Homo sapiens: one gene and its partners. The protein of the gene in region 4 interacts with the protein of the main gene of each other region in a pairwise test. Each region holds a gene or a part of one and is shown on either strand. Other genes may lie near its edges.

Region 1 (6,964 bases), on a different chromosome or scaffold from region 4:
CAATTCATGATGGGCGTTCTTGTCTGGTTTCCCCCCACTCCGTCCCCTGACGCCGAGTAACACTTAAACCTTTCTAGTTGCAAAGTCTTTTCAGAGTTGTTTTTTTTTTAAGAAATAAGTTTTGAAAATTCTAGTGCTTAAAATATATATATATATATATAATTTATAGCCTTTTATTTTCTCTGAGTACATGTTGGCCACTACATTCCAAATTGATCTCAAATGGTTTTCCAGCTTGTTGAGGGGTGATGAAAAATAAATGGAGAATATATTTACATGCCCTCCTATTCTTTTCTTTTAGAAGTCTCATAAATAGTAAATTTCCTATTTTAAAAGCCAGGACATTTTCAACCTCAAATATTTGGAATTTTTAAAGGCCATATTAAAATGGATTACTTCTGCTATCTATAATAAATATGAATTGTGAAAATAAATTGTTTGAGGGAAAGTAACGTAGGTTTTAAAAAGTTCCATTTAGAAAGGGAAGAATGAGATGTAATAGAAAATAAACGATGTAGTGTAGTGACTTAGCATTTTATTTCGTCTATATAACTAGGCTTAATTTTAACACCTTAATTTTAACATTAAAGATGGCACGTCAGACACACAGATAAGAAATCAATGTTCTGAAATTAATATCCTACTTACATTAAACATCCCTATCAGGAAGACACAGAGAGTAGAAGCATTTTGCACTAGACTTAGGAATAATACTTCCAGCTCCAAGGAAGTGAAGAAGGGGGAACATGTTTGGCATCGGAGGCTGTGTTTTTGTTTGCTTGCTTGTTTTTCTTTTAATGCCAGAACAAAATACCCCACTCACGTTCATAGTACCCCAGGAAATGCGCAAATCGGGACAGCCATAGAAGCCACAACCGAAGGCAAGAAAAGATGACTTGACGCCCTGCGAAGGTTACGTTCAGGTGGTTTTTAGAGGAACGTAATCCAGCTGTTTCTTTCTAACCATTTTGCAGCGAACAGAAGTTCGTGTTTGCTCTCCAGCGGGATTCAGATGCACACGCCCTGAATGGGCCGCGCAAGGTGAAGTGAGCAGCTGCGGGTCGCTCCCCACTCCCACCTGGCTCTAGGAGGGCCCTGCGGAGTTGGCCAGGGAACTGGGCGTGGGCGATACTAAAAAAACTGGTGAGGTCCCCTCTCCGCCCAAAGGGGCAGCCAGCGATGTCAGCCTAGAGCCCTCTGCCACTGCCTGATACCTCAGCAGGGCCGACGAGGCCGACAGGTGCCCGCCCAGCACCGCGCCCTTGGTGGGAGCGCAGCCGTTGGCGCAGTCCTCCTCCTGATGCTGCTGCTATTGCTGCAAAATTGTCCGAGCAGCGGCGGCGGCGGACACTTGCAGCAAAGGGGCAGCGGTCTGGGGATGCAACAGGCTTGATGGTCGCTGGAGCAGGTGGCAGTAGCTCCACGCGGTCGGGGACAAACTCTGCGCAGCCCCTGTACCCGCTCCCCTGACCCCTTGCATAATACTCTCAATGCTGAAAGAGATGCATCCGCCTCCCGGTGGCGACGCCAGACCCTTGCCCTCCTCCCAAGGCTGAGGACCAAGTGAGGGCTGCAGCACGGGAAGGGTGCCGGGGTCGCCAGGGCCGCGCCTTCTGCTTTCTTCGGTGCCCCGGCATAGACGGGGGCCGAGAGCAGTAGGTAGCGAAGAGGATGCGGGTGCAGCAGAGCGTAAGGGCGTCTCCCGGGGGCGGTGTTGGGGTAGGCCCCCGGGACTGGCTGCGGCGGGGCAGGGGCCCCAAGCAGAGGGCCTGGGTGGGGGTTGTGCAGGGCGGCGTGTGCAGCAGGTAGAGGGAAGGGGTGGGGCAGGTGGGCTCCCGGGGTCAGTTGGTGGCGCTTGAAACGCTTCCTACGCCGGAGAAAGCTGCCATTGTCGAACATGTCTTGGGAGGCGGGGTCCAGGCTCCAGTAGTTGCCCTTGCCTGGGTGGCCCGGCTCGCGGGGGATCTTAACGAAGCAGTCGTTCAGCGAGAGGTTGTGGCGGATGCTGTTCTGCCAGGCGGGGAACTTGCGGCGGTAGTAGGGGAAGCGGCCACTAATGAAGGCGCAGATGCCGCTGAGCGTGAGGCGCTTGTGCGGGTTTTGCAGGATGGCCATGGTGATGAGCGCGATGTACGAGTAGGGGGGCTTTGCCGGCTGCCGGGCATCTTCAGAGGCCGCCGCAGACCTTGGCGGTGCCCTGAACTTGGTGCCAAACTCTGAGGGGTCGCTCGGGCCGCCGCCGCCCTCGATGTGCTCTCGGGGAAGCGCAACCCCGCCCCACCGGGCCACCTGCAGCCCCGGCTGGAGCGACTGCTCTAGGAACTGCTGGCTCGCCGCCTCCTCCTCGTCTTCCACCTCGTCTTCATCTTCCTCCTCTCCCAGGACATCGATTTTACCGTCTTCCCCATCGGAGTCCCGGAGGCTGCGCTGCGGTGTGGAGCGAAGGCGCTCAGCTCTTGGCAGGTTCATGGAGGAGCAGGTGCTTCAGTCGCAGGGGATGTGGCGACCGATCACCTAGCCTGGGGCGGGCTGAGCTGGAAGCCTGGGATGAATGTTGCAAGAAGCAGGAACGCTAGTGGTTACCCTTTGGGATGTTTTCGTCTGCTTGTTTCTACTCCTTTGCAACAACGTCCGGCAAAGATGCCTTTGCCTTTTATAAAAGCTTCTTCAAGACCATGTGTGGTGGACTCCCCCCTTTATAACCCTTCTTCCCCTACCTCGGAGCGGTGCCACTTCCTCCTAACGTAGTCCAGGGATGATGGTCTTCTGGGCAAACACCCGTCCGGAGAAAAGCCCAGCCCCCTCCTCCTCGCACCCACCTGCCACCAAGGAAGATGCTCTACTCATCCGGTGCAGCCAGACAGTTGGCAAGCCTTTGCACGGGTTCTGTTAAGGCGCATTTAAACCCGCGCAAATAAAAGCGAGGTAGGAAAGTATGATACTCAACATTCTATGACCACCTCAACATGCAGCCTTCCCGCCTGGAGAAAAGAAATGGTGGGGCAGGAGGCTGAAATGTACACGGTTGTTTGTAAAGGAATGTGTAACCGTAAAAGTATGTTTTTGTGTTTCACAGCTGGTAATCACCCATTTTCATTGGTAGAGTCTGCCCTTACCCAGAATGGTGAGCTGAATTATATTTAAGGTTCTGACAATATTCCCAGGCTTCAGGGGGGTGTTGCTTTGCTCCTTCTACCTTCCTTCCCACCTCCTCAAGATGCTCTCCCTGACTCAAATTTTCAGAAAAGGCTCAAATGTCCCAGCACTAAATTGTGTAAGTTTACTCAGGGAAGGCAGGAGAGCTCACACGGAGTCCTCTGTCCCCTTGTAGCAATGGTTCTCCAATTTCTTTGAATATTTAACCACAGAAATACATTTTATATCACAATCTCACACATACAGACATAATACATAACTAAGATGGGTTTCACGAAACAATATACTTACACTATAGTGATCACTGATATTTCCTTTTAAAAAAAAATGGCCATAACCAACTAAATTGATTTCACACATACCAGTATGGGCCCAGTTTGAAAAATCCTGTTCTTACAAAGTGGCCCCACATACAAGAAATGCACCCACTCTATAAGGGCTTCTCTCTCTCCCTTTCCTCCTTCCTTTCTTCATCCTTTATAACCAATTCATTTTTAGAGACAGGGTCTATGTTGCGCAGGCTGGCTTTGAATTCCTGGGCTCAAGTGATCCTCCCGCCTCAGCCTCCTGAGTAGGTGGGACTACAGGCGTGCCACTATGCCTGGCTCTGGCTCTTCATTCTTTTTTTTTTTTTTCTTTTTTTTTTTTTGAGACGGAGTCGCTCTGTCGCCCAGGCTGGAGTGCAGTGGGGCGATCTCAGCTCACTGCAAGCTCCGCCTCCTGGGTTCACGCCATTCTCCTGCCTCAGCCTCCCAAGTAGATGGGACTACAGGCGCTCGCCACCACGCCTGGCTAATATTTTTAGTAGAGACGGGGTTTCACCGTGTTAGCCAGGATGGTCTCGATGTCCTGACCTCATGATCCGCTTGCCTCAGCCTCCTAAAGTGCTGGGATTACCGGCGTGAGCCGCCATGCCCAGCCTCTTCATTCTTTCAGAAATGTCAACATTAAGTGCTTTTACTGTAATAAAACTTGGGACTTCAATGAGGCAAGAAGGGGCTGCAGTGTTGCCTTTAAATCAGTGGGTCCTCATTCACTATCTGCACTGGGGAGGGGCAATATGACAGCACAACTGTTCATCTCACTCCCTCCACATCCTTAGAAGTAACACGATTTTTAGATTGGCTTCATGAAAATTAGCTCAGAGACTAAAGTAGCACTACAGAGGAATAAAAAAAATTTGTTATATAAATAAGAATCTTATTAAAATACTAAGTAAGATACTATGCCACGGTATATATTCATAATTTAAAACCCACCTACTTGGGAAAACTTTGAGGTGCCATCTAATAAAAATGCAGCATGAAAGAATATTATGCCCTTGATAGTCACATAGTGTCTATAATTATGACAATGAATGTTCAGTGAGAAATCAAACGCCAACTGCAAGGGCAAAATATAATAAAAAATAGCTTAAAGTAGCTAGTGCCTTCAGGATAAAATCTGGAAAAGAGCTTTCTTGCTGATCTTTTTTTGAAACTTTGCTGCTCCTGAAGTTTTTACCCTTTAAGGCTCCTCAGTTTATATGAAGCTTGGAGGACAAATAACAGACAGGTTTGAGCCTAACAGATTTGTTTGAATCCCAAATTTACCAATGACTGCTTGTGTGACCTACTAAACTAAGCTCCAGGAGGGCCAGGCCAGGTGTCTTATTCAACCACATAATCCCAGACGCCTCCTCCCCAGCGCCCCCCAGCATGTGAGGCAAATTTCCTCCATCAGCATAGGAATCGGATGACCTGGGAAAGGGAGTATTAGTTTTCCTAGAGCCAGCTTCAATAGGGATTGGGGTTATTTAAAAATACAGGAGAAAAATAAGGAGGCGCTCAAAAACAAAACACAAAACCCACACTGATGGGGGTATGTCAAAGGGGGGAACAGGAGATAACGGAAAGAGTTCCCAATGGTCAAAGCTGGGATAATTTGAGCAACAAAATAAAGTAGTATTAAATTGTAACCCAAAGTATAAAATATTCATGTGTCCACACTGATAAACATAAATGATCGAACTAATAAAGCGAAAGGGACAACTGTCCCTTGCAGAAGAATTTCAATTAATTATGTAGACCACTCCCAAGAAAGTACACTACAACTCCCCATTCCTTTAGTGTGGGCTGTGCATAGTGATTTCCTTCCAAAGAGCACAGTATGAAATGGGGGAGAAGAGTAACTTTACAATGCAGAAACCTGACAAACACTCCTTCAGCCAGGTGATCAGGTCGTCAACATCAACATCAATAACAGTCATAACCTTTTATTTCATGTCATAAAATGGTGACACTTACTTGTGTTAAAAAAATTTAATAACAATGTAATCATTATATCTCTGCAATCAGCTGAAGTTCTAAGAAAAAATGACAATGTTGAAAGTTGTATCATCATTATTATAAACTTTCATGTTCAGTATATGTAAACTCCAAAGCCAATTTCAAAAGATATTTTTGTGAAATACCATTCTTTAAAAAAAAGGATATTGTATATAATTGTATGAATGTTAAATGTTTTACAGTACTGATTTGCTACATTTTATGTATGCTGTAAAACAAATACCATTTTAAAGTATATTGGAATTCGTAACTAAAGTAATAAATAAATGCTTGAAATATACCCAGTAGAAACTTATTTTTATTATCCAATCCTTTTGATAAGAAATGCCTCTAGTGTTATGTACAAACTTGATCTTCTTTGAAATGTGTTGTCCACTGCTTTTCTGTTTCTGTCACAGTAGCTATAAACAGCTGTTTAAGGATATCCTTATCTAAATTTCTGCCTGCAAACAAAACAAAATATGACGTGATTACATTATGCTTATTAAAATGACACAGTTCACCTATCAATTCCAGTTCATTAAATGCTTTATGGTGTTTAAAAATTTACAAAAAGAATAGTAATTGAGTGATTCCATCTTTAACTTTCCAGGTCAGTACATCAAAGTCACATTGGTCCTTGGATTAACCACTTTTCTAAAATTGAAGAAGAACAAAAGTCCTAACAAGCTTTTACGAACATTGTAACGTGACAAAGATGAAACATTGACCACAAGCTTATTTAGTTTTAAAAGAGGACCTGAATGGTTAATCTGTTTAAGTGGCACATGATATCCCTTTCAAATATATTTTTCACTTTGTTTCAAAACTGTGAATCCTTTGAGACTTACCAATGAGGACCAATCGATTTGTTCTCTCAGTGTCATCCTTCCAGCTCACTGGAGTCTCCTCCAGATCACAGAGCTCATGGACACCCTGGACAATCACTTGTTGTGATTTGTCTTTGATTGACACCAATCCCTGCTCAAAGGAGAATTGACTGAACATTAATCAGCCTCAGTTCAAACTTAAAAGCAGAAATAGAGCATCAATGTTAATGGATTAATTACTGATATTCACTTAAAAAATACAAACTCTTAAGCTGAGAAAATTACTTAATTCCAATTATTTGTGAATTACAAGAAGTTTCTTAATGTTTTTAATTTTCAAAAAAGGTTTCTGTGTATTGATTTTTTTTTTGAACAATCCCCTTTTCTAATGATAAAGTTAATACATATATTAGGATGGTTTTTCAGTGTTATTTATCACAACCAAAACCTGAAACAAAATGATGAAATATGTATCATATCCTATTGATTAAAGATTTTATATAATGTTTCACAGTTTTAGTGGGAAAAGTTGAGAAGTTAAAGGAGTTTGGTTATATTAAATAATTTGTTTTAGAAATGGGTTGCAATCAATGAACAATGTTGAAATAAAGAAAAACTATTATATTTATCTGGATATGAGCTCAATTTATCTGAATATGAGCTCATTGTGTA
Region 2 (6,326 bases), on a different chromosome or scaffold from region 4:
AGAAAACGGGCTCTTTAAAGGAATGCATCTGTAATAAAGGGAAGGTTTATTATTCCAGTTAAGACTGAAGGATAGTTAGAGTTTACTCTTCAAATTTGTTGAGCCAGTATTGTTACGTATCTGCACTACATTCATAATCTCATTGAAAAATAATTTTCATTGCTTCTCAAACTCCAGATAATAAAAGGAAAAAAATGTCACATATTACTTTTTTTTTTTTGAGACTGTCTGGCTCTGTCGTCCAGGCTGGAGTGCAGTGGCGTGATCTCGGCTCACTGCAACCTCCGCCTTCCGGGTTCAAGCCATTCTCCTGCCTCAGCCTCCCGAGTAGCTGGGATTACAGGCGTGTGCCATCACGACCGGCTAATTTTTTGTATTTTTTTTTCAGTAGAGACAGGGTTTCACCGTGTTAGCCAGGATGGTCTCGATCTCCTGACCTCGTGATCTGCCTACCTTAGCCTCCCAAAGTGCTGGGATTAGTTAACACACAGAAATGTTCACCAATTAACACTCTAGTGTATTTAATCTCAGATTTTTTTTTAGTTCATCTGTTATATGTAAGTATACATTTTTAATGAGACAATAAATGTATAGATTGCTTTTTAAATTGCTTTATTAGCTTTAAATTTTTCCATGCAAATGGGTGAAACTACTGCTGACAGAAACTTACACTGAGTGCAAAGGCAATCTTCAAATAGAAGCTGGCAACACAAGACCCACTTGACACATGGAAATAACATAGGGTTCACAGCAAACGGATCAGTAAAGGCATATTAGGAAAATGCAAGGAAAAAGAAAACAGCGGGAATCACAGTATTAATCTCATGATAAATGGCAGGAGTCAAGGCATAAGGCAAAATTCATCATGATGGTCATGGTGATTAGAGAGCTCCCCCATAAGGATACGCAGACAATTCCTCAACTGCAGCTCCCTAAGTTTTCTTCTGATTTCTCTCATCTCCTCCATGAATATTTCCATATCATCTCCATCTCCACCCATCCCATCATTGATCTGCCTATTGGGTATGGCCCATCGAAAATTAGGGGCAAGTCGGCGAGCCTGTCCCCGTCGATTTCCTGCAGGCTGGTGGCCTTCACCTCCTCCCAAAGGGCGGTCTTCCTCTCCATTCTGCATAGGCTGCTCCATCTCTTCGTTTTCCTGGTGAATATTTGCCATGATGAGATTTTTTTTTTCTGGTTGTTTTTCTTTGAACACAAGTAAGACAAAGGCAAGGAGAGAGACTGAATGCTTGGTGCTCTGACCAGCAGGATTCAGAGCCCTGATATCAAAGGATTTTTTAATTTCGTTTTTTCCCACCTTAGAAGTTCCGCGCGTCCTCTACGGGGCCTCCAATTAAAGCCCCTCCCTCCAGCTTTCTCCCCTTACCTCCCTTCCCCCAAACCCACCATTTTTCGTTTCCCGGGATTCTTTCCCAGAGCTTTGCAGGCACCAAAATGGAGGACCGGTATAGGAGTGGGGGATGGGGTGGAGGGGGTTGGGGTCTCAGACTGGGCTTTCCTTACGTTCCGACCCCCGCCCCACCACCGTCCCTCGCACCGACCTGGGCCTATCCTTGCAGTCTCCTTCTCCTCCGGATTCTCGCCGCGAGGTGCGCCGCGGAGACACTTAGCCTCGCAGACCTGCAGTCGAGCCGGGGTGGGGGTTGTGGGGGGTGGGGGCTGCTGCAGCGGAACGCTAGCGAAGACCCGCCGCCGCCCGGCCCTTTCCGTGCTCCGAGCCCGGGCTCCCCTCGCTGCCAGCGCCCCGCGTCTCCCGCCCCCCACCCCCACCCCACCCTCGAACGCCCAGCCCCCCGCGGTGTTCGCTGTTTTCCTGCAGGGACTCGGGGGTGGGTTTCCATCGCTCTTGGTGGCTCTGCCGCCCCTGGAAACCCAGCCGCCCCTGCTTCCCCATCCCTGGGGGCCTCTGTGTTCCCAAGCATGTTGGGGTGTGGAGAAAGCTGGCGGGGACCCCCTGCGCTGTTCTGCGCCTGTCGCCGAGGTCGGTCAGCCGCTGCTGGCATGGCCGGGGCTCACGGGCCCCGGAGCCCTTACCTGCTCCGCTTTTCCCCGGGCCGAATGCCAGCCCGCCGAGCTCAGGGCAGCGGGGAGCTGGTAGCCAGACGCGAGTGACGACTGCACCGAAGGCTGCGTCGCTCTGCAGCTCTGGGTCACGTGAGGGCCGCGCGTCACCACCGAGCTCGCCCCCCAACTTGGGCGGCCAGTGCAGCAGGATCTCCCCCTTCCCCCCACCCGCCACCGCCATATGCACGCGCAAAAAACAGCCTCCCTACTCCCGTCTGCATGAGGTGCCCCAGAGCGCACAGCCCTGTCACTCTTCTCGGTCCTCTCCAATCTGAGGGCCCACAAGTGGCATCACTGCTCTGCGGTTGGAGTTTGCCCTCCTCTGGTTACCAGGGAGGGTCTGCATCATCCTCCACCACTGCCCCCTCTCACTTCAGGCCTTGGCTTTGGCCTTTTCTGCTTTCTCTCCTTTTCTACCTGGCAACATGCTTTGCGCTGCACTCCCACTTCTACCCCTTGCGTGTGCACAGCCATCAATGCCCACGTAGCCCCTGAATTCCTACCCTTCTAGAAAATTTAGAGTGAGGGCTAAGGTGGGGAGGCAGGAGGGCATTTGTCAGAAAGCGGGGCAAGGAAGTGGAGTGGACTGTATATATTTCTTTTTATTTCCTTAAAAAATCTGCATGCTTCAGAAAATTATAAATTATAAGTTTTTAATTTTGAAAGAAATGCTGGTTGGGCGCGGTGGCGTACCTGTAATCCCAGCACTTTGGGAGGCCGAGGCGGGTGGATCACTTGAGGCCAGTAGTGTGAGACCAGCCTGGCCAACATGGTGAGACCCCATCTCTACTAAAAATACAAAAATTAGCTGGGCGTGGTGGCGTGCGCCTGTAATCCCAGCTACTCGGGGGGCTGAGGCAGGAGAATCGCTTGAACCTGGGAGGCGGAGGTTGCAGTGAGCCGGGATCGCACCACTGCACTCCAGCCTGGGCGACAGAGCAAGACCCTGTCAAAAAAAAAAAAAAAAAAAAAAAAAAAAAAGGAAATGCTTTATCCTGCACAATGAAATCTCTCATTGTTTATGTTGACCTGTACCACACAAAATATTTTTTCTGGGCTCCACACAACATCAAGCCATTACTTTTGATACATACTAGCTCGTTTAAAATTTTATTTTTGGCCGGGCATGGTGGCTCACGCCTGTAATCCCAGCACTTTGGGAGGCCGAGGCGGGCGGATCACGAGGTCAGGAGATCGAGACCATCCTGGCTAATACGGTGAAACTCCGTCTCTACTAAAAATACAAAAAAATTAGCCAGGCGTGGTGGCACGTGCCTGTAGTCCCAGCTACTCGGGAGGCTGAGGCAGGAGAATCGTTGAACCCGGGAGGCAGAGGTTGCAGTGAGCCGCGTCGCACCACTGCACTTCAGTCTAGGCGGCAGAGCGAGACTCCGTCTCCAAAAAAAAAAAAAAGAAAAGAAAAAAATATATAAAAAGGCGGGACTCTTTCTTTTTCTTTTTTTTTTTTCCCCCGAGACGGAGTCTCGCTCTGTCGCCCAGGCTGGAGTCAGTGGCGCGATCTCGGCTCACTGCAAGCTCCGCCTCCAGGGTTCATGCCATTCTCCTGCTTCAGCCTCCGGAGTAGCTGGGACTACAGGCGCCTGAAAGGCGGGACTCTTTCTGAACACAGTTGGTGTTTTCGAAATGATCTGTAAAGTGAATCTTCAGGGAGCAGTCTGGTCGTCAGATCTTCACCATTTTATGTAACTTTGATGTTTTTGATATCACAGTCATCAGAGAAAGGGAGTCTTTTATTCCCTGCTTTCCTTTCCAAACCTTTCAAACCATCCCTACAAATATCTTCTTAGTATGAGCTCAGAAGTTAAGTACATATTATGCAGAAAGTAGTTTCAAAACCATCTACCCTTTGGTGCGAATGTTTCAAAATATATTAGAAATAAGCAGGGGGTGTGTGAAACAACTTAACTTGAGACTGAACCTTATCCTGAGTGCAAATGTTCCTTTCTCCAACTTGAAATCATTTTTAAAAAAATTATCACAGCTAGAAAATAGAGATGTCTTTAGAAAAGTGGCATTGTTATAAAAAATATTTGATATCTGTTGTTTATGATAAGGAACCAAAAGCATTAAATGCAGCACTGAGGCAAGACAAGCCAGACAAATGCTTACTAACTCTAGTTTTGGCCCCAAACTCCTGTAGAATTTCCTACCCTGCTAAACCAGATGACACAGTGAATAAAGGAAGAGTATATGCCCAGTGTGTATGTAGTTAGACGTTTTGGAGATATGTATTCCATATAAAATTACATATATATTCTTCTAGAGGTATATGGATATATTAGTACATAGCTCCAAAACATCAAATTATAAAATCACACTCAATATTTGTCTTTTAAAGAAATGTTAGTGATTCCTGGATTCTGTCTCACAGTTAAGAACTTTTTATACAGATTGCTATATTAATGATATCAGCTGGAATGATGCAGTTTCAAAGCATGAACAGTAGTATCAGACAAGTCTGGCTTCAAATTCAGTCAGCTGTTTACTTGATGTTCAACTTTGGATCAATTACTTATCAAGGTCTGTGTGCTTCCTCTGTGAAACAAGGATTGTTAGAATTACACATAACAATAATTTACTACATAGCCTAGTAAATCATCAATTTTTGTTGACATTATTTTTATTGTTATTCGATGGTTTCTAACATGATTTAAAGAGTAGCAGAGTATGATTCTTTCCTTAGCTAGACCCACTTGTTCTTAAAATCCATGAGGGCCCAAAACATGCTTGCTGTGTTCTATTTTGTGTACCCAGTGACTAATAGTGTTCCTTGCACCAAGTAGGTGATTACTGAATACTTGTTGAATGAATGTATCCAGTACTGAGGCGAATAGGTTGTTTTTCATTCTGGGGACTGTATTTAGAGCAATACGGAAAAGCTTTTATGAAAATTAAGAATTACCTAGAAAAAAATCTCCTGAAAGCTGAGAAGCCACTGTGATGTGACTATTGGATATGAAGTTTAGCAAGTGGATTTTTATTTCTTTTGGTGGCTAAATGCTTTGCTGTTTTCCTTTTCACCCATCTTGGATAAATCCTGTGTTCAAAACCATCAAATTTCCTTGGATGAAAACAGACATTTGTTTGTAACATCCAGATTGGATATTATGCTATATTGATTAGTTGTAATAAAGTAATGTTTTAAAGATAGGTGAAAATTATCCGGGAAATGCTGTTATCTTTACTAAAATGTTGTGAATAGGAGTTGATTGAGATGTTTTCTTGACCCTGAAGTTTTCTGAGGAGTTGGAAATAGACAGCACACTGTTGAGAACAAAAACAAATTTTTTCAAGGCCAAGTTAGAAGGACACTATATTCTGCATTTGGGATTCATGTGTCCCAAAAGGCAGAGAGAAGGTGAACTGATTAGATGGTTCTTATCCCCACACACACGTTTTACACATGTTTCAAGCCCAGGAGCCTCAATTCTAATCTGCCCTGGAGGCACCAGGAGGACTCAGAATGAAAAGTGAGATTGGCATTTGAAAATGAATAGAACCAAATCTTTAGTCTGACTGAAACTATTTTAATAAGCAGTAGTGACTGAAAAGTTGGAGAACTGGACAGAAATGTAGTTAAAGAAGCCCATTGCCCCATGCGAAGTGGGGGAGGGAGTGATAGAAAGAACACTGCTGATACAGCTATTGGAAAAATAAAACTGTTTCATGATTTGACCTCAACTAGTGAAGATCCCTCTATTGTATTAGTATCCCATCAGTGGAAGCTCGTTTTTGCTGAAATCTTTATGTGTATTGCCATGACATGGCTCACATGTACTTGTCTGAAATGCACCTGGTTGGACTGTGGTTATTGTCCTGTTTTCCTCTCATTATCTCTCCTGTGTAAATGCTAGGCTTGGGAGAAGGTAGTCTGAGCCCTAGTGGGCCCTGTGGGTATGAGTATCTCTGTTCCTGCCTAGAATAGGTTCTCTATGTACCTCTCTGATGCTTTACTGATACTTTTTTATTGTGATTCTCTCTTTCTCTCTAAATTTAAGCACCGATTACAGACTGAAACTAGGTGTTAAGAATATAGGAAATTATGCCTACTCCAGCTTTCCTCTAAGCTATGGCCATTATAACTTTGATGCCAAGATTTCCAAAATGTGGAATGAATCTGATGAAATTTTAAGGGTGTCACTGTAAGAGTTTCAATGATTTGGGAGATAATATATTTAATTCAAGAGATCTAGTCTGAAAAAATAAAAGGGCTATGAGAC
Region 3 (7,030 bases), about 27 Mb from region 4:
AAAAAGAAAAAAACTGCTTCTGCACGTCTTAGACGTTCAGATTTCTTGTGCCCTGAGTCATTTTCCAATCTCCAGCCTGTTTGTACAGATCACTGACCAAACAGGTCTGGCATAATAGTGCTTGCCAGAATATAAATGCCCCGTAACTAGTGCTTTTACTCTAGGGTGCTAAAAGATGAGGGGATTCTAACCCAGGTTCATGGGAGGGCGAAAGCCACCTTTTTGTGTTTGTTTTGGCTTCAGAGCCCTAGCTTTGCCTCAAGTTCCTTAGCTGAGTAGATTCTCATCTAGAGATGTTTCAGTGTTGATGATGATAGATTTGTAGTGTGTCAAATGCTGTTCCAGAAGAATGCTGAAATAGATCACAAATTCTATTAGAGAGGGCAGCTGATTTTTTTTTCATGGTCTGCAAGCCTGTCTTCTCTCTTTGCTGTACTTTGGTCTGGGTGTAACTAGAATAAAGAGTATATTCTTGAGCTGAACGGTCTTTTGACTCACTTTGCCTCACTTTGCCTCCTGTCAAGACTTGACAGACATTAGCAAGCGTGTATGGGTCACTAGGTCATTTGCCATTCATTAGGATTAATCCTGTTTTTGAAATCTTTATTCCCATAGCCTTTTTCAGAACAAAAGGCAACTCTGAGGGCTTTCCTTTTTAACTTGAGCTTTCTCTGATGTCCCTAGTTTCTTGAATCCTTTCTTTATAAAAGTAACCATAAATAGTTATCTATCCAGATCTATTGCAGTCTGTAACCCAAATATTCCACTGAATCCAACAAAAGCAAAAAATGACAATCTTTAAAAAATGTGAATTTACAATTCTACAGTTTAGCCCCAAAAGCACTTGTTAGAAGGATGAAAGCGCCAAAAAACTGGTTTCTTGCCCAAATAAGTTTGGGAATGGGAATGGGTTTAAAAATGATTACAAGGCTTTTTTTTTTTTTTTTTTGAGACAGGATCTTGTTCTGTTGCCCAGGCTGGAGTGCAGTGGCACGATCACAACTCATTGCAGCCTTGACTTCCCAGGCCCAGGTCATCCTCCCATCTCAGCTTCCTGAGTAGCTGGGATCACAGATGCGTACCACCTTGCCCGGCTAATTCTTTTTATTTTTTAAAAAATTTTAAATTAATTAATTAATTAATTAATTTTTTTGAAACAGAGTCTCAGTCTGTTGCCCAGACTGGAGTGCAGTGGCCCAATCTTGGCTCACTGCAACCTCTGCCTCCTGAGTTCAAGCAATTCTCCTGCCTCAGCCTCCCGACTAGCTGTGATTACAGGTGCATGCCACCACGCTCAGCTAATTTTTGTATTTTTAGTGGAGACGGGGTTTCACCATGTTGGTCAGGCTGGTCTTGAACTCCTGACCTCAAGTGATCCGCCCACCTCGGCCTCCCAAAGTGCTAGGAATACAGGTGTCAGGCACCATGCTCAGCTTCTTTTTATTTTTTTATTATTTATTTATTTTTTTGTGAGATGGAGTCTTGCTCTGTTGCCCAGGCTGGAGTGCAGTGGCGCGATCTCAGCTCACTGCAAGCTCTGCCTCCCAGGTTCACGCCATTCTCCTGCCTTAGCCTCCTGAGTAGCTGGGACTACAGGTGCCCGCCACCACACTCGGCTAGTTTTTGCGTTTTTTTTTTTTAGAGATGGGGTTTCACCGTGTTAGCCAGGATGGTCTCGATCTCCTGACCTCGTGATCTGCCCACCTCGGCCTCCCAAAGTGCTGGGATTATAGACGTGAGCCACCGCGCCCGGCCTGCCTCTTTTTATTTTTAATAGAAGTGAGACCTCCCTATGTTGCACAGGCTGGTCTCAAACTCCTAGGCTCAAGTGATCCTCCTGCATCAGCCTCCCAAAGTGCTGGGATTAGAGGCCTGAGCTACTGCATCTGGCCTTATAAGGCCTTTTTACCTCAGGATTCCTTAGAACCTTTAATGTGTTATTAGGCATTGTGAATTTTGAAGGAAATGATATTGTATGTACCATTTACCAACCCAGTTTATCCATGAACCCTTTTCTCCCAAAATACATACTTTCTTTCTGAAGAGTGTACTAAGAAACCCAATTTGGAGAATGCAGTGTCTGGTATAAAACTCCTTGTAGACAGTGGTTGTGTATTTTGATTTTCATTTGAAGACTGCATGTGAAATATACTTAGACAATGCCAAGAATGTTCTCAGCCAGACATCTTTTTTGCCTTCTTCAACTTTCCCACTCCTATTTTCATTAAAAGGTCACTGAAAAGTAGGAAGTGACATTTGTCAGTCACTTTTCTGTCAACTATGACATAGGTAAAGATTCATTTTTCTCCATATTAACATAGTTGGTTCTGGCCAGGCACGGTGGCTCACGCCTGTAATCCTAGCAGTTTGGGAGGCTGAGGCGGGCAGATCACCTGAGATCAGGAGTTCAAGACCCGCCTGGCCAACATGGTAAAACCTGTCTCTACTAAAAATACAAGAAAATAGCTGGATGTGGTGGCGGGCACCTGTAATCCCAGCTACTCGGAAAGATGAGGCAGGAGAATCGCTTGAACCCAGGAGGCAGAGGTTACAGTGAGCGGAGATTGCGCCATTGCACTCCGGCCTGGGCAACAAGAGTGAAATTCCATCTCAAAAAACAAAACAAAACAAACAAACAAACAAAAACATAGTGGCTTCTTAGTAAATATTTTATGATGCTACTAATGATGAAGGCTTGGCAAGTTAAAAAATACATACTCACAAAATACCTAGAATCTTGCCTTTTAGATATTCTAATTTAGAGTCTCATATTTTCTGCTTCCAGTGTTCTTTCAAAACACGAATATATATAGTTTTTTTTTTAAGAGACAGGGTCTCGTTCTGTCACCCATATTGGTGTGCGGTGGCACAATCACAGCTTATTGCAGCCTTGAACTCCTGGGCTCAAGTGATCCTCTTACCTCAGCCTCCTGAGTAGCTGGGACTACAGTTGCATGCCACCACATCCACCTAATTTTTTAAATTTTTTTGTAGAGATGGGTTCTCCCTATATTGCCCAGGCTGGTCTTGAACTCCTGGCCTTAAGTGTTCCTCCTGACTTGGCCTCCTAAAGTGTTAGGATTACATGCGTGAGCCACGGCACCTGGCCTGTATAGTTTTCTTAATGAATCATTAATTACAGCGATACAGAATGTGAATTTTGACAGACCTGAGTTTGAATACTGGCTCTACCATTTACTATGGCCTTGAGCAAGTCAATTCACTTGTCTGGGTCTTGGATTTCTCATTAATGAAGTAGAAATAATCACAATTCCTGACTCTCAGAATAGCTGTGATAAAGAATATATGTGACGAAGAATATAAATAATTTAGGCTGGCCACAGTGGCTCAGAAGTTCAATACCAGCCTGACCAATATAGTGAAACCCTGTGTCTACTAAAAATAAAAAAATTAGCCGGGCATGGTGGCGTGCACCTGTAGTCCCAGCTACTCAGGAGGCTGAGACAGGAGAATTGCTTGAACCCAGGAGGCAGAGGTTGCAGTGAGCCAAGATCACACCACTGCACTCCAGCCAAGGCAACACAGTGAGACTCTGTCTAAAAAAAAAAAAAATTTAGTATAGTGCCTGGCACACAATAGGTAATTTTTGTACTTACTAGTCTTATTGTTTACTTTTTATTACAGATTTTGAGATCAGGAGTGAGAACGAGGTAAATCCCAAGCAAGAGATTAGTGAAGATGTACAATTTGGGACTACATCTGAAAGACCTGCTGAGAATGCTGAGGAAAATCCTGAAAGTGAAGAGGGCTTTGAAAGCGGAGATAGGTCAGAAAGACAATGGGGAGATTTAACAGCAGAAGAGTGGGTAAGCTATCCTCTCCAACCAGTCACTGATCTACTTGTCCACAAAGAAGTCCACACAGGCATCCGCTATCATATATGTTCTCATTGTGGAAAGGCCTTCAGTCAGATCTCAGACCTTAATCGACATCAGAAGACCCACACTGGAGACAGACCCTATAAATGTTATGAATGTGGAAAAGGCTTCAGTCGCAGCTCACACCTTATTCAGCATCAAAGAACACATACTGGGGAGAGGCCTTATGACTGTAACGAGTGTGGGAAAAGTTTTGGAAGAAGTTCTCACCTGATTCAGCATCAGACAATCCACACTGGAGAGAAGCCTCACAAATGTAATGAGTGTGGAAAAAGTTTCTGCCGTCTCTCTCACCTAATCCAACACCAAAGGACCCACAGTGGTGAGAAACCCTATGAGTGTGAGGAGTGTGGGAAAAGCTTCAGCCGGAGCTCTCACCTAGCTCAGCACCAGAGGACCCACACGGGTGAGAAACCTTATGAATGTAACGAATGTGGCCGAGGCTTCAGTGAGAGATCTGATCTCATCAAACACTATCGAGTCCACACAGGGGAGAGGCCCTACAAGTGTGATGAGTGTGGGAAGAATTTCAGTCAGAACTCCGACCTTGTGCGTCATCGCAGAGCCCACACGGGAGAGAAGCCATACCACTGTAACGAATGTGGGGAAAATTTCAGCCGCATCTCACACTTGGTTCAGCACCAGAGAACTCACACTGGAGAGAAGCCATATGAATGCAATGCTTGTGGGAAAAGCTTCAGCCGGAGCTCTCATCTCATCACACACCAGAAAATTCACACTGGAGAGAAGCCTTATGAGTGTAATGAGTGTTGGCGAAGCTTTGGTGAAAGGTCAGATCTAATTAAACATCAGAGAACCCACACAGGGGAGAAGCCCTACGAGTGTGTGCAGTGTGGGAAAGGTTTCACCCAGAGCTCCAACCTCATCACACATCAAAGAGTTCACACGGGAGAGAAACCTTATGAATGTACCGAATGTGAGAAGAGTTTCAGCAGGAGCTCAGCTCTTATTAAACATAAGAGAGTTCATACGGACTAAGCTGTAATTATGATGGCTGAGAAATGATTCATTTGAAGATACAATTTTATTTGATATCAATGAACGCCCTCAAGACTGAGCTGCTTTTATCATACTCTCCTAGTTGTGGGCCACGATTTAAACCATCAGAGATGACAAGCCATTTGAAATTCTGACCCTCAGCTTTGGGAATGTTATCTCCTCCAAAATGGTGATTTTTATTCACTCAATGGGTTACTTCATTAAAAGCAGCCCCACAAGTAACTGGAAATCTGAAGACCAGGGGACAAATGCTGGTGAATGCTTAGGCCTGGAAATGGAGTAAATCTTTCAATGTTATTTTCTCCCATCCTTGGCCCAAGGAACTATGCTAAGTGAAACGTGGGACTGTAATAGGGTGGTAATGGCTGCTTTGGAAAAAGGCAACTAGAGACTCTGCCTAAATTGCCACACCTATTCACACACCATAGTAGTTGGGCACACACATCTTCCCTTCCAAAGGGCTTTTTCCTTGAGTTGCTCATGCATTTGTATCTTTTCCATCTTCCTGAGGGCAAGATTTTGCACGATGAAGGCAATGATTGTAACTTTTCTCCTTCTCATTGTTTCTAATTAGCTCCTTTAAAGCTTGCATCTTTGTGAAGGCTAACTGAAGATACGGTTGGAAAGGAAAAATGAGACACAGGTTTGGGGACCAAGGACCCATCAATGATGGTGACTTTAGCAGAAGATGCCCACAGTTATTACTGCCATTAATCAGATTTATGAATTTTCTTTGGGGATCACTATAGGGAATATTGTATAGAAAATATCTTCAAGAAAAGATAGGACCATCAGTGACAGTTAAGTGTAAGGAGCAAGTGGAATTGAGTCCTTCAGGGAAGGAACCACAGAGTCCCTTCCCAAGGAATGTAGGTCGTTTCTGTGTTCTTTCCCTTCTAATCTTTAAGATCAACTCTTCCTATCCTGCTAACTCTAAGATTTGATAAGGGCCACATCCCAGTGTTTATCTTAGCTTGCATCAGGGCATGTGTATGTACAGTAATGTGTATTCCTGTGGTTTTTCTAATAGAAACTGAATTTACAGAGACTTAGCATGTTCTTGGGTGATGTGAGTCATGTGACAGAAGTACAGACATAACTCCAATGTGAGAAATGTCCTTTTTTCATTATGGAAAATAATTTAAACACTAGTGCTTTAGTGTGCACTCTCCTGTAAGGTCTGTCTTTGTACAGAGCTAAGCACTTGTTTGTATGTGTTTGTCAATTGTGGAAGATAATGACCAGACAAATAGGTCGATTGTCCTATTCTCAGAATGAATTATCTTCTATGGTAATGAAGAACTCTTTGGCTTAGTCAGAAGGAATTAACGAACCTCGGTAGGAATGTATTTCCATCCTCCCACCCTACAGATATAAGAGGTTAAAATAACAGTTCGCCCAATTTAAGCCCAGTAGTGTCAGTTTTCCTAATCTCAGTCCAGGTAGGAATTAAGAAATATCTCAAGTGTTGATGCTATCCAAGCATGTTGGGGTGGAAGGGAATTGGTGCCCAGAAAATGGGACTGGAGTGAGGAATATCTTTTCTTTTGAGAGTACCCCCAGTTTATTTCTACTGTGCTTTATTGCTACTGTTCTTTATTGTGAATGTTGTAACATTTTAAAAATGTTTTGCCATAGCTTTTTAGGACTTGGTGTTAAAGGAGCCAGTGGTCTCTCTGGGTGGGTACTATAATGAGTTATTGTGACCCACAGCTGTGTGGGACCACATCACTTGTTAATAACACAACCTTTAAAGTAACCCATCTTCCAGGGGGGTTCCTTCATGTTGCCACTCCTTTTTAAGGACAAACTCAGGCAAGGAGCATGTTTTTTTGTTATTTACAAAATCTAGCAGACTGTGGGTATCCATATTTTAATTGTCGGGTGACACATGTTCTTGGTAACTAAACTCAAATATGTCTTTTCTCATATATGTTGCTGATGGTTTTAATAAATGTCAAAGTTCTCCTGTTGCTTCTGTGAGCCACTATGGGTATCAGCTTGGGAGTGGCCATAGATGACCGCATTTCCATGACCTAACTGTATTTCACCCCCTTTTCCTTCCCTACTGTTCTTGCCCCACCCCAACCAGTTCCTGCTGCTGCTTTTGG
Region 4 (7,030 bases):
AGCTCTGTTTTGTTTTCCCCAATCTGAGTTACATTAAAATAAAGACTCAGTTGTTTTTATTTTTCTACTGTGCAGTAAGAAAAAATATTCACAACAAACATGACAATATATCAAAGAATAGTTCTACACAAGTTACCTTGATACCTCTTTAACTGTCACTTAAATATCATAAGAAAACATTTTAAGACATATACAAACAAAACTAGCCAAGTGTTACAACTTATAATAAATTAACCCAAAGAAAAAATAACTTTATATATATATATTTATATTGTATATACACATACACACACAACAGAATGACACAATAATATGCTTCTTCCCATAGTTTAAGTAAACAAATAAGTAGTCTAGCCAATCTAGCTATATTTGATCTCGGCCATAGGCATCATCACATCGGCGATTAAATAAATAAGTGTTTCAAGCAACATAAACAGTGTTTCAAATGTACCAACACAGCCCAATTCTATCAGCATGGGCTACAAAGTGAATTTGAAAATTTCTTAATGAATTTAAAGCAAATGTATCTTTTGTTTTCCTCTCCTAAACACATTACATTTAACTATGATACTAAGATATGTAAATAATTTTGTAGCACCTACTGCTCAAACTAAGGAAGTTTTAGATCAAAAGGAAAATTAATCTTTTTAATTTTTGTTCTGCTGACATCCCATACTGATGACTTAAAGAAAAACTGTCTTTCAACTCATCTCCTTGCTTTTGGGTTTTGACTGTGGGGAACTGTGGTACCCTGGGTAGAACGAACACTCCTTTCCCCTAGTAATTAATAATTGTTTTTTAATTATTATTACATGCTATGAAAAGATATGAAGATCATCTGTTTATAGCCCATCCTTCAAAAAACAGTCTACGAATCCAGTTTAAAACACACATCTTGATCTCTAAAAAGTTACCAGTGCAGTATGAACGCGACAAAGTTGTCAATTTCCCCTAAATTAGCCAGTCAAAATATTTTTTTCTCAAATCCAGATTCTCTTGTAAAAATTCTTTATATTTTATAAAAATAGATTTTTCTTGAAACCCATTTTCAGCAAAGAGACCACCTCTTTGGCAACAATGTTAATGTTATTAAATTGTTAATGTCATCAGGTATCCCCCTTGCCCCCATCCCCTAACAGAAGACTGTTTTAGTTCACATGATATAAAAGAAAGAAGGAAAAATAAAAAAATTTGCAAAAGTTTTTTTTTATTTTTGCAATTTTTATTATTCCTCTTTAATTTGTGTGGGGGTTTTTACCAATCTGATTGGATCGATATTTTGACAAAAAAGAAAAATCTTTTTTTCCTTTCTTTGAATCCCATTACTTTGTAAAAATTGTTTTATTTTTATTATTTTTTTTGTTTTTTGTTTTTCTTCTTCAAATGAGCGAATGGTCATCTTAAAAAGATCCACCTTCAAGGAAGGTAGTAAAGTTAGCTGGCTGGGTAAAAATCCCTGCACATCGCTATCTATGTATATTATATTCAACAACGACAGCTATGAAAGAACATTCAATGCATCAAAGGTATTTTTTGTTTTTTTTTTTTCTTTTTTTCTAAGCATTATAAAATCCTTTCCTGGTACACCTCAGGATAATCCAATGTTTTAATACTTAGGCAACACTGGCTTATAAAGTCCATGGTTGAATATAAGCCTTGAAAAGTTTGTTTCTCTCTCTTTCGTGTATGTGTGTGTGTGCGCGCGTGTGTTTTGTTCGTATATATTTCTATATATATTTTAGTAAGTAAGAATGGGAAATTCAGGACTTGTGGGCTTTGTTGGTTTTAAAGGAAACTTGCAACACTCTGTCTCCCAGGCGGTACCCGTTGAGGCTGGCGATGGCCATGGCCGCCTCATCATAGTTGGTCATGGTGACAAAGCCGAATCCCTTGCACTTGTTGGTGTTGAAGTCACGAATCACCTTTACGTTGTTCACTGCTCCAAAGGGGCCAAAGAGCTGCCAGAGGACACTCTCATCGGAATCGGGGGACAGGTTGTAGACAAAGATGCACCACCCAGTTCCTGTGTGACCAGGGATGTTCATTCCCACAAGGCTTGTCATTCCATCAATGGTAATTGGGGAGAACCTGGGGGGACAAGCAGAAGGGGGGACTGGTCCAGACATCAGTCTGACCAAGGATAACACACAGATGCACAGACACAGACATGGGGCAGAGGGCTGAGTGAGTGTTTACAGGAGAGTCTTCAGGGTTCAAAAACCAAAATGTAAAAACTAATGTCTATGTCATTTCCTCTGATGGGAATGGCTTGACTGGCTAGGGCATGTTCATGCTGAGAGAAAGACCTAGGTCAATTTCTAAAAACCATAAGGGACTCCCAGGGCTCCCAGAGCAAGGCTCTGTAACAGTTCTATCACAGTATATGCTCATAGCGCACCCCAACCTGACTCCACCCCACCCCGACTCCACCCCACCCCAACAATAGACAATGTGCTCTTGGAGGAAAGGGTCTATTTCATTCATTCTGTGGCTCTATTTGTTTATTCAGTGGAGCACATATGGGAATCTCACAGATATAGTGACACATAGAAAATGCTCAATAAATATTTATTGGTTGAATAAGTGACTCACTTTGGCCAGTGCTTGGGAAATTTCATTGTTTTTTTTTTTAAAGGCAGATTAGGAGATGGCCCTAAAGTGCTTAAGTCTACCATTTTTGCACTCCCTTGACCTACGGTTGTCAAATGTTTCTTGGTGAGGATGGAGATACGTGACAATGAACAGGCCTTTCTTGCTATTAAACAGATGGGTGGTTCATGTTTCATTTAGCATTTATTCAAAAGGGTTTCCCCCACAAACTCAAGCAATAATAATAAAGATGTATTACTCCTTTATGCTATGTTATCTGGAATTTATTCCTAAGTATCACTGAAGCAAGACTGCAAGTGGTTTGTGCATTTATATATCTTGAATCGCTATACATTAGAAAAGCATAGAATTGTTATTTGCCCTATTACAACTGCTTTTGTATTAGGTTTAGAAATCTTCTCAGTTTTTGTGCAATCCTGAAAAGAAAAAATGACCCTTTAAATTCTATTCACTGTCTGATGAAATAAATCCTTGTGTAATTTGTGAGGGATGTACCAGATGAAACAATTAGGTTACCAGTGCCTATAGCAGAACAATATTTGTTAATGTTTTGTTTCATATCAAACTTACATAGGGACTTTTTTCTTTTTTTTTCTTTCTTTCTTTCTTTCTTTTTTTTTTGAGATGGAGTCTCACTCTGTCACCCAGGCTGGAGTGCAGTGGCGTTATCTTGGCTCATTGTAACCTCTGCCTCCCGGGTTCAAGTGATTCTCCTGCCTCAGCCTCCTGAGTAGCTGAGACTACAGGCACGCACCACCATGCCTGACTAATTTTTTTGTATTTTTAGTAGAGACGGGGTTTTGCCATGTTGGCCAGGCTGGTCTTGAACTTCTGACCTCAGGTGATCCACCCACCTTGGCCTCCCAAAATGGTGGGATTACAGGCATGAGCTTATATACGGATTTTTGATGCTATACACTGAATAGTTTCTTGCTTTTCATTTGGCCAGGGTTTTACTGGGGGAGATAGGAAAAGGAGAGAAAGCAAAAACTAGGGAAGAGCATGGTGTAAAGTGTGAGCTACAACTGTTTTTAAAAATAAGCAAATATTCTTGGAGATTTGAAAGTCCTATTAAAGAATAGTTCTGTATCTAACTAGAATTTGGATAATCAAATGGCTACTGAATATATGCTAAATATAACAACTCAATAGACAATATTTTTGCTATTATTCACTAAGTCAATCTTCCCTCTTGTTTAAAAACAATTAACAAGAAAAAGCCAAAAAATATCATGGTGTAGATCCTTAGACGTGCAAATCCATGTCTATTTGTAACTTGTATCATTTCTGAAGATTGTCTTTTTAATATTCTATCCTCCAACCAAGTGAGTTGACCCTGGTGAACTGACCTCTTTCTGTTTATAGGTAGAAAACAGCTAAGTATTTATTATAAGTCAAAGGTCAGGGCCAGCAAAGAGATTGCAAGTACAGCCTCTATCCTAGTTGGTGACAGTTAATTGCAGCATTTTGGTAGGAAGCGTTCTAAATCCAAATCTGGGTTCAATAGGAAAAGAGAATGCTATTATCAGCTAGTGATGTTTACTCTGGGTGGGGCAGTGGAGGAGGTGGTGGCAGGCCTACTACAGCTGTGTCTTCCCCTATCTTATCTATTTATAAGCATTTCTCTTTTCACAACATTTAGCACTACCTCACTAACATCAGAGAGGAGCAAAGGAATGAGATAGAGCTAGGAAAGATGTAAAATCCCTGGGAACAGGCAAACAGTGTGCTGGAAATGTGGAGATAATTCATAGTTATCCTCATTGATGCTGGGATTGAGATTTGAAAGGCCGGTCCTCTGATAGTGAAGTCTGCAGTCAGGTTACTTCCTCTACCATGCACCAGTTCCCAGAGTCAGGGTACTTACCATGGATGGCCAGTGAAAGAACTGGGGGTGTGATGTGGACTATTAAAGACTACATCTCTTTCCCTTGACTGTAGGAAGGGGAATTAAAGTGTGCAGCTCTACTGAGCAAGATGATGAAGACACTATGTCCCTAGCAGTGCAGTGGAGCTTATCAGAAGCACATATGGGAATCTCATGGACACAGTGACATCACACACCCAACTTTCCAAGATTCAGATTTCATACTGGGTCTGGAAAACTTTGAATCTGCATTCAGAGAGCCCCAAAAGCCTTGACTCTGGGCCCCCAACCCCACAAAAAGCCTTTCAGTGACAGGAACAGCAAGTTTAAAACACACATAACATATAACCAAGGGAGGATTTATAAGAACTGTTAAAACCTGTAACAAAAGAAACCCCTGGTTGAGGTGCACACAGATACACTTCATTCTCAGGATGTGCTCTGAAATGCACACTGAAGTGGGGGCAGGAGTTAGAAAGTCATCCACGTGTTTGTTTATCCTTTGGCCAGAGCTGGTAGTCCAAAATCTAATTTTTCTACTGAAAAATCATAAGATTGTCAACCACAATTAGCAAAATGTTCTAATTCTGATTTGCTGGAATCTGCCCTCTTAACTGAATCTTGGCATTGCTAATGCAAAACAGTTTGCTCTGCAAGTTTGCAAAACCAGCCAGCAAAGAGTCGGAGCCTTTCCCCTTAGGGGAGCCATTCAAAGGACCAGATTATTAAGGGCTTGGTAGCTGTGGCACCTGAACCATAGGAGAAGCCCACCTGCAAATAAAAGAAAAAGTGAAACACACAAATACATTTTGTGTGCCCTAAAAGAAACAAAATCAACTGAGGTCCGAAATTAAAATTAAGAATTTGACATGCTGGTGGAAGAAAAAGGAAGAATTTTTTTCTTTTAAAGTAAAGTTAGTGAATTAAAAAAAAAAAATTCTAGCCCCAGTCTGTGCCAACATGGACATCTGGCAATCTGTGGAGTTTTAATTACCTCTTTACGCCATAGGCCATATTAAGCAAATTGTCCAGCCTGCAAAGAGAAGGAGGGTCTCTGGGTTAATGCCTCACAGATGGCAAGATCGCTCAATGGAACTATTAATAAGAATGCTCCATTTTCAAAGAAGAAAAGCTCAACAACTTTCCCCACTGCTTAGGAGTCTATCCACCGGTAGTTTCCCCCTTTTCTGTCTCTAACTGCAAGTAATTCATGTTCAGGTCATTGCTAGAGTTTAAAGCAAGTGTCTAATGAGTCTCCCTTTCTTTCAAGGTCTGAATTAATACCATTCCCCCCACCTCTCAGAACATTTGTGTGGATTTTGTTTTATATTGTAGTGAAATTGTTCAAAGCGGGGGCTTCTTAAATTGTTCACCTTTTTACTATAATTAAACTTGTAAATAAAGGTCTCTGTTCCAGATTAACAATACACAGGCACACAATATGTATCAGAACAGATCTTTTCTGTTAGCCTTGCTACATTAACTAAATCATCTTACTACACACATTTTTGGGAGGCAGGGGGAGTTTGCAGGTTAAGATTTTTAAAAAGTGGCTTACTGTTTACTGCCTGATAGCACCTCCCAGCAAACTGCCATTACGCTATAATCTTCCTCACATTCACTACCTTACTTGGGGACAAGCTATTCACACCATAGGGCAGTAGTAACGATAGTTTCCACCATTAGAAGTCTGCTGGAGAGGCTTTTTACATAAATACTGCATGTGCTCTCAAGCAAAATAAAAATTAGATGACTTGGACTCTTCATGAAATCATTAACCATTTCAAATTCACAGGGCATAGGAGGACACGAAAGAGGATGATTTTTCTCCTCATGTAGCCAGATGGAGCATACTATCCTAGATAGAAGGACCTACTATTTCCCATGTGAAGTTTCTCAAAGAGAAAAACATTTTCATCAAAGGGAAGCTGGGCTGTGGTGTGGAATAAAGTAATTGTTTAGAATTTATCATGGGTAAGTCAAACATATTTTTATCTCTTGTATAATAGAGACCAGTCAAGGTCATACTGCCTTCATGGAGAGAAACCTGTCTTTTAGAAAAGTCCCAGGAGAAGGGCAATGCCCCCCTGCCCCAGGAGCTTCCTGGGGGTTGGGTACTTGAAGGAAACACTAATCAGGCTTGGACAGGATCTTCCTCCCTATCTTCCCAGAATCTACTGACTTAACATAATAAGGTTAACACCAAAGGCACTTCCCCCTCCCCTGAACTCAACAGAGTTACCTGCCGAGGGAAAAGAAGATAGGAAAAACAACTCCTTCTGGCAAGGATCTGCCTTATGGTCTATTTTTTGAATTTATTAAAAGCCACTGTCCAGCCTTAAGTCTAATCTGCTGAATGTGGTCACTGATCTGTGATTAACTCTTGTTGAAACTGAACCTTCATGTTTGGTTAAATACAGACATTTTGTTTCTACCAAAGAATCTAAAGTTTATACAGTCACAGTAGTAAATTGGAAGAGGGCTTAGAAGGGCATCTGCTCCAACTGTCTCATTTTACAGGAATGGAAACTGAGGCTCGGGGGGAGTTTTGCA

The links.
Region 1: the proteins of ELAVL4 (region 4) and FOXD4L6 interact in binary tests that used the Homo sapiens proteins (3 or more experiments, as listed by UniProt).
Region 2: the proteins of ELAVL4 (region 4) and BEX3 interact in binary tests that used the Homo sapiens proteins (3 or more experiments, as listed by UniProt).
Region 3: the proteins of ELAVL4 (region 4) and ZNF436 interact in binary tests that used the Homo sapiens proteins (3 or more experiments, as listed by UniProt).

The regions. Positions count from the first base shown.
Region 1 is NC_000009.12:41,125,915-41,132,878, forward strand, and holds FOXD4L6 (forkhead box protein D4-like 6), read right to left. Parts: upstream 2,768-6,964; 5' UTR 2,470-2,767; coding exon 1,216-2,469; 3' UTR 521-1,215; downstream 1-520. Other genes in the region: ZNG1F (zinc-regulated GTPase metalloprotein activator 1F), read right to left, coding at 5,820-5,926, 6,314-6,443.
Region 2 is NC_000023.11:103,372,343-103,378,668, reverse strand, and holds BEX3 (protein BEX3), read right to left. Parts: upstream 2,056-6,326; intron 1,642-2,055; 5' UTR 1,563-1,641; exon of another isoform or gene 1,207-1,562; coding exon of another isoform or gene 1,148-1,206; coding exon 842-1,147; 3' UTR 505-841; downstream 1-504. UniProt on the Homo sapiens protein: May be a signaling adapter molecule involved in NGFR/p75NTR-mediated apoptosis induced by NGF. Plays a role in zinc-triggered neuronal death.
Region 3 is NC_000001.11:23,359,837-23,366,866, reverse strand, and holds part of ZNF436 (zinc finger protein 436), read left to right. Parts: intron 1-3,645; coding exon 3,646-4,898; 3' UTR 4,899-7,030. UniProt on the Homo sapiens protein: May be a transcriptional repressor.
Region 4 is NC_000001.11:50,195,909-50,202,938, reverse strand, and holds part of ELAVL4 (ELAV-like protein 4), read right to left. Parts: intron 5,511-7,030; coding exon 5,472-5,510; intron 2,131-5,471; coding exon of another isoform or gene 2,089-2,130; coding exon 1,761-2,088; 3' UTR 1-1,760. UniProt on the Homo sapiens protein: RNA-binding protein that is involved in the post-transcriptional regulation of mRNAs. Plays a role in the regulation of mRNA stability, alternative splicing and translation.